Linked DNA regions of Homo sapiens: region 2 is reported to be linked to region 1. The links are microRNA targets in miRTarBase. Many come from high-throughput screens and were not tested one by one. Region 1 holds a microRNA gene; the other region holds the end of a gene's coding sequence.

Region 1 (3,000 bases):
TTTTTTTAATGTGTAAATTTACTCCTATATCCCTGGGTCCGTGTAATTAGCAGCATTGATGCACATTATTGTGAGGGCCCTGGACAGTTTGAGCAAAGTTTGAACTTGAAGTGAGGGCGGAAGTAAGTTCCAGAGGCCCTGCCTCTGCCCTCTGTTTTGTTCACCTCAGGGCAGCCTCTGCAAGTGGAAAACAGGCAGCAACGAAGGCTGGGAGATAGTCCCGCCATTGGTCCGCGCTGCAGCTTGTTCTGGCAGCGAGTTTAGTTCAGGAAATTTGCTGAGAATTTGTTTTCACAGCAAGCCTCATATTTTTGTTGCAAATTGTGTGGCGTAAGCTTACCAAATGTTTCCTCTGACAGGACAAGAAAAGACCTGCAGCACCTTGTAGTGAGAGGCTTTGAGGGCCTGGCAAGTCTGAAATGTGCTGTGTTCTGGGTTATGTGTGTGTCCACCCTGGGATTGGGGTCATGGAAAGCGCCTAAGGGAGGCCTCAGTGTCCACCTGGACACTGGAAACATGGACTTCTGGAAAAGCTCCAGAGCAGGGGCTTTTTTCTGTTACCTTTTTTGGTCAGAAAAGATACTCTTTTTTTCTCCAGTAGTTTTGTTAACGTGAAAATTTAGGCTGGTAAAGCAAAACAATATTATAAGAATATCTAAAATTTAACATGCACGTAAAATTAGATTTCATGGAACATTAGCCCTAGAGACTTTAGACAAATGGTTCCGTACTGGGGGGATGGTTTTGCCCCCCAGGGGACATGTGGCAATGTCTGGAGACATTTTTAGTTGTCACAACTGGTGGTGCGGGCAGCGGTGCTACTGGCATTAGTGGGTAGAGGCCAGGATGCTTTGAAACAGCCTTCAGTGATGCACAGGCCAGCCCACGACGAAAAATTATCTGGCCCAAAGTGTTGGTAGTGCCAAGGCCAAGAAACCCTGCTTTGGTTCCTGGGTGTAGGGACGTGTATGTTCTTAAACAAGAGCCCCTCCCGCCTGCATTGTGGTGGATGATGGCTGCCTTTTCATTGAGTGCGGGCTGTGTGCCAAGCGAGTTACCTCCATGCTTTTCTTTAATCCTTACAACTTTTGAGGTACGTGTGGTTTTTTTTTTCTTACTTTTTCACCTCTCCCCAAGTTGTCTGCAGATGTGTGTTTTTATCTTCATTTTACAGATGAGGAACCCGAAGCGTAGAGGGTTAAGTAATTTGCTTGAGGGGACCCAGAGTGGGAGATGATGGGCTCGGATTCAGGCCCAAGGCCATCCCCCTCCCAGTGCCTGCTCAACTCCACAGCATGTGCTGAGTCCACACACCAGGATTCAAATCCCTGCTCCACTTCCCAGCTGTGCAACCTGAGCAAGTTACTTCACTGCCTCCTGCCTCAGTTTCCACACCTGAAAACTGGGGACAGGAAGGGCTGTGTGGAGCAGGCCAAATTTTGCGATGAAGCATCTGGGTCTGTGGGTTGCACAGCGGACAGCGCAGGGCCATTTCTTTGCCCTCATACGGAGCAGGGCAACGAGCAGCACATCCCGCTTTGATGCCGAGGGTGAGGAGAGGGCAGGAGACCACTGACAGCGTGCTGGGCACAGAGTCTGGCACACAGTGCTCAGTCCCCGCAAGCGGTCACTTCTGTTACCTGTTTGATCTGCTCTTCAGGAGCTGGGTCTCCACCTTTTTCAGGAACACACTGTGTGAAAAGCAAGCCATGCTTGTGTCGGGAAAGCCCAGTGGGTCCAATCTATGTCATCAAGTTTTAGACTTCAGTCCCTCTCTCTTTTTGTCTTCCCCTTTTGCAGACACCTTGGAAGAGCTTAAGGAAATAGATAAAGGCATGTGGAAGAAACTGCAGGAGAAGTTTGCCCCCAAGGGTCCTGAGGAGGATCATAAGGCCTGAGCTCAGGCCTTACCTCGTGCACATACCTAGGTGTGGAGTCTTGTACATTGCCATCGTCAATAAAACTGCCCCAGTTTCCCCTTGACCTTACGGTTTGGGAATCTCCTCTAGCTTTCCCAGAAAGGAAGCCCTTGCTGCTCTAAAGAAAGTTTCAGCCTGAGAAGGGATGGTGATTGAGCTATCTGCTGTGACTGCTGCTCAGGGTAGGGAAATCTCCTGGGGAGAGGAAATGCAGGTTTCCCTCTGGGCCTGATGAGGGTAATGGGGCCTCGGCACAAGGTGCTTCCTGCATTGCCACGGGAGCCCCCGCCCCTCTGGCACGGGTCTGGTGTCTCCTGGCAAGATACTCAGGCTCCCTTTTGTTGTAGGAGCTCCTGGGAGGAAGCCAAAAATAGCAGTAAATACTGAAAAGGGCATCCTGTTGCAAACAGAAAGCAGTAGGGAGGTGTGAGGCCGAGAGAGGCAAAAAGCCTGCTTGGCCCTCATCCCCACTGACTCAGAGAAGGATGGACCTTAGGCCTCTATCCCTGACCTTGCAAAAACCCACATTGCCCAGTTGGCTTAAGGGACAGGGAAGCTATAGACAGGCCTTGGCCAAGCGGGGCCTCAGCTGCAGTTGGCTTCAGCACTGTGGGCAGGTTCTGTAGGTGGCCACAAGTCAGAGGCCCTGCTGGCTGAGGACACACACAGGGTCACCTCATTATTCCATGGAACCTTGGCTCTTACTGATATTGAGCATCCTTCTCTCTGGAACCGTGAGGGACAGGGCTGGGCCCACAGCGGCCCTGGTGGGTACAAAGTGGAAGTGGGTTCTTAACCTCGTCTGTGTCTAGACTCCTCAGGATGTTCTGAAATGCATAAAATAAAATCGACAGGACTGCCGTAGAAACCAGTTATGCCGAAATGCAGTTCTGGGTAGGCAAATCTCAGGGGAGGACCCTTGAGACAGGATGTCACTCAGCGTATCTCCTGAGAGCCTGAGAGGCCAGGCCAGCAGGGAGGGGCTCTTGTTCCTGTCTTCTGCCAGTGTGTCCTGTTAATCCCCACAGCCCCCGGGGGAGTGCAGGAAACACATCCCTTTTTAACGGACTAGATTTCTATT
Region 2 (3,083 bases), not on the chromosome of region 1:
AAGTTTTGACTGTGTGTGTGTGTGTGTGTGTGTGTGTGTGTGTGTGTGTGGTTATATACATATACATACATATATACATATATGACATATTGGACTTATAGGTAAGACTTTTAATTAATTAATTATGTATATATTGAAACACAGGGCTCGAAGGGAGTATTGGGAGAATCTGCTGCCAGCTTCAGGCAGACCTTTCTGTCCTTCGCTGTCAAAGCCAGACTTCTAAGGAGTAGTGAAAGAAAACCCTGAAATAATCGAACAGGAAAAAGTTGCCCTCAAGCCTGACCTGGAACCGTTCCTCACCTTCATCCTCACCATGCCCTGCTATCTCCAGCTGCTGAGCAGCTGAGGTGCTGCAGCCCCTTCCCTTCCAGCCCACAAGTGTGTGCATATTGAGCTCCTGCTGTGGTTAAGCACTGCAACAGACTCTACCAGAGATGCAAAGAGAAGCGAGAGAGGCACCTTGTTCTCCAAGAACTTACTGTCCAATCATGCTGTGGTGCATTCCTTTGAAGATCATGAAGAATAGCCAAACTTGTCTTTGAGGGTGAATTTGACACTTTAAAATAATCAGAAGTCACTGAGACCCAAAGCTAGTGAATAATTCAAGTGACTAAGCTAGATACTTGAGGATGATAGAGCAACACTAAACTAAAGCAATGAGTCTGCTTTTTTTAATGATTTATACAATGACTCCAAAGGCAATCCCAAAGAAAAGATGTAAAGAATGTTTTGAGCAATGGTAGCATTATTGAAATAAATGTTTAACTATCCAAAGTGATTACTTTCAAAGATGATTTTTACTTAAAGATATTAGGTCTGGCCAGGCGAAGTGACTCACACCTGCAATCCCAGCACTTTGGGAGGCCGAGGCGGGCGGATCACCTGAGGTCAGCAGTTCAAGACCAGCCTGACCAACATGGTGAAACCCTGTCTCTACCAAAATACAAAAATTAGCCGGGCATGATGGCGGGTGCCTGTAATCCCAGCTACTCGGGAGGCTGAGGCAGGAGAATCGCTTGAACCCAGGAGGCGGAGCTTGCAGTGAGCCGAGATCAGGCCATTGCACTTCAGCCTGGGTGACAGAGTGAGACTCCATCTCAAAAAAAAAAAAAAAAGATATTAGGTCCTAGAATTTTTAAAATGTGTCTTCATAATCATAGGTAGCTAGGTTATAAACTATTTAAAGACAAGATCACGTGATAAGCTTATAATCTTCTCATAATTCCCCTTACTTAGCATTGTGTTAGACATACTAATAGGTGCACAGTGAAATACTTATTGTTGATTGTTTAAAAATAAAGTTTTAGAAAACCTTTTCAAAAGTCAGAGTTTAGGCCAGGGGCACAGGCTGACACCTATAATCCCAGCACTTTGGGAGGCCAGGGCGGGCAGATCACTTGGGTCAAGAGTTCAAGGCCAGCCTGGCCAACATGGCAAAACCCCATCTCTACTAAATAAAATACAAAAATTATCCAGGCATGGTGGTGCATGCCTGTAATCCCAGCTACTTGGAGGCTGAGGCATGAGAATTGCTTGAACCTGGGAGGCAGAGGTTGCAGTGAGCTGAGATCGCCCCACTGCAATCCAGCCTGGGAGACATAATTCAAATCTATTTTGGTCTTATATCTTCTTATGTTTGTGTTATTTCATGTGTGCCAGTTTCTCTTTTTTTCACAACAATTTATCAATTTGTGGCAATAAAAATGATTTACCTTTTATAGTGTTTGAATGTCGAAAATGTCATGAACATTCTTTGGAATAATACTAGCAAATATTTATTACTCACTATGTCGCAGTCTTTGTTCTAAAGATGATCTCATCTACATATACCCCCCAACAGGGATTCAAAATTAGATAGTGTTTAACACAGTAGTTTACAGGTAAGGAAACTGAAGTTTAAGGAGGCTAGGTAACTTGCCTGAGGTCACACAACTAGTAAATGTGAAATTAGTAAATTTGGATTTGAACCCATGGGGCTGGCTCTAGAATCCATGCCCTTAGCTACTGCACTACACGGCATCTGTCATGCACACAGCTGCTGCTTTTTGTCAAAAATCTATCCAAATTTTTCTGTCGCTGGATTCAAAGTATTTTTTATCAACTTTCCTTATTATGAATTAACTCTTCAAACCTGCCATGACTGTTTCTGTAATGTTGACAACCTGGAATTTATTTGATATAGCCACTTTACCCATAATACACAACCCCACCCTGCTGGAAATTAGAAAGTGAATCATTTACTATTATCTCAAGGCCTTTGGGGTCCTTAAGGGTGACTAATCCAAACCACCAATTAAATACCTGAATATCCTCGCCAGCATCTTCATCAGGACCATCCAGTCCCTGTTTGAATCCCTTAAATAGTAACTCACTACCTCTCGAGATCACTTACTCCTTTTTAAGAAACACTTCATTCTCTGGAAAGTTATTCCATGTATTAACTAGAAATCTATTTATTAATGACCCTCACCTGCAGACTTGGAGCACCTAAAGTGCAAATTTATAATTTCTTCCATATAACTCTTTGAAATTTAAAGATAGCTGTATGGCTTTCCTATACTTACTTGTCCTCATTTCCTTCAACTAAAAGGCATAGGCTAAGATGTGCTTTGTCAAATCTACCTGTGTGACACTGTACAGTTACTTAAGCTTTATGCCTTAATTTCCTCATCTGTAAAATGAGGGTAAAATAGAACCATCCTTATTAGGGTGCTATGAGGATTAAATGAGATAAGTTTCTTAGAAACAGTGCATGTCGTATAACAGGCATTCATTGCACATTATATAGTATAATATAATTATGTTGACTTGGTTTCCAATCCCCTCATCCTCATGGTGACTGTCTTCTGGGAACACTCTGGTACCAAAGCCTCTGCTTATTTTTAGTATGTAGTCCTGAACACCACATTCCAGGGGAGGACCGTTTACACAATATCTCCTGCTTGCTTCATAGATTTTGTGGAGAGGGCAGTGCAGGACATCATGAGAATAGCAAGAGTGAAGAAGGTACATTAGGAGGGAGAGATGTCTCCACACCGAATCCCTTCCTTGGGTCTGCACCAGCACAAACAAAGGCTTTT

What was found. The annotated mature microRNA hsa-miR-3934-5p reads UCAGGUGUGGAAACUGAGGCAG and lies in region 1 at 1,378-1,399, opposite strand. An mRNA with a match to its seed (bases 2 to 7 or 8) in the 3' UTR can be bound and repressed. Matches are read on the target gene's strand: a 7mer-m8 pairs with bases 2 to 8, a 7mer-A1 pairs with bases 2 to 7 and ends in A, and an 8mer does both.
Region 2: the mRNA of BHMT2 is a reported target of hsa-miR-3934-5p. Seed matches in the 3' UTR shown: 7mer-m8 at 840-846 and 7mer-A1 at 883-889.

What each region holds. Positions count from the first base shown.
Region 1 is chr6:33,696,551-33,699,550 of GRCh38, reverse strand. It overlaps MIR3934 (microRNA 3934), which reads right to left and starts at 1,423; the gene lies at 1,317-1,423. It overlaps ITPR3 (inositol 1,4,5-trisphosphate receptor type 3), which reads right to left. Exons shown (of 58, transcript NM_002224.4): 58 at 2,989-3,000. It overlaps UQCC2 (ubiquinol-cytochrome c reductase complex assembly factor 2), which reads left to right. Exons shown (of 4, transcript NM_032340.4): 4 at 1,801-2,787. The coding sequence ends at 1,898. RefSeq lists an enhancer at 1,020-1,995.
Region 2 is chr5:79,088,349-79,091,431 of GRCh38, forward strand. It overlaps BHMT2 (betaine--homocysteine S-methyltransferase 2), which reads left to right. Exons shown (of 8, transcript NM_017614.5): 8 at 145-1,721. The coding sequence ends at 226. Among named protein-coding and RNA genes, the nearest start is that of BHMT2, 20 kb to the left of the region's middle.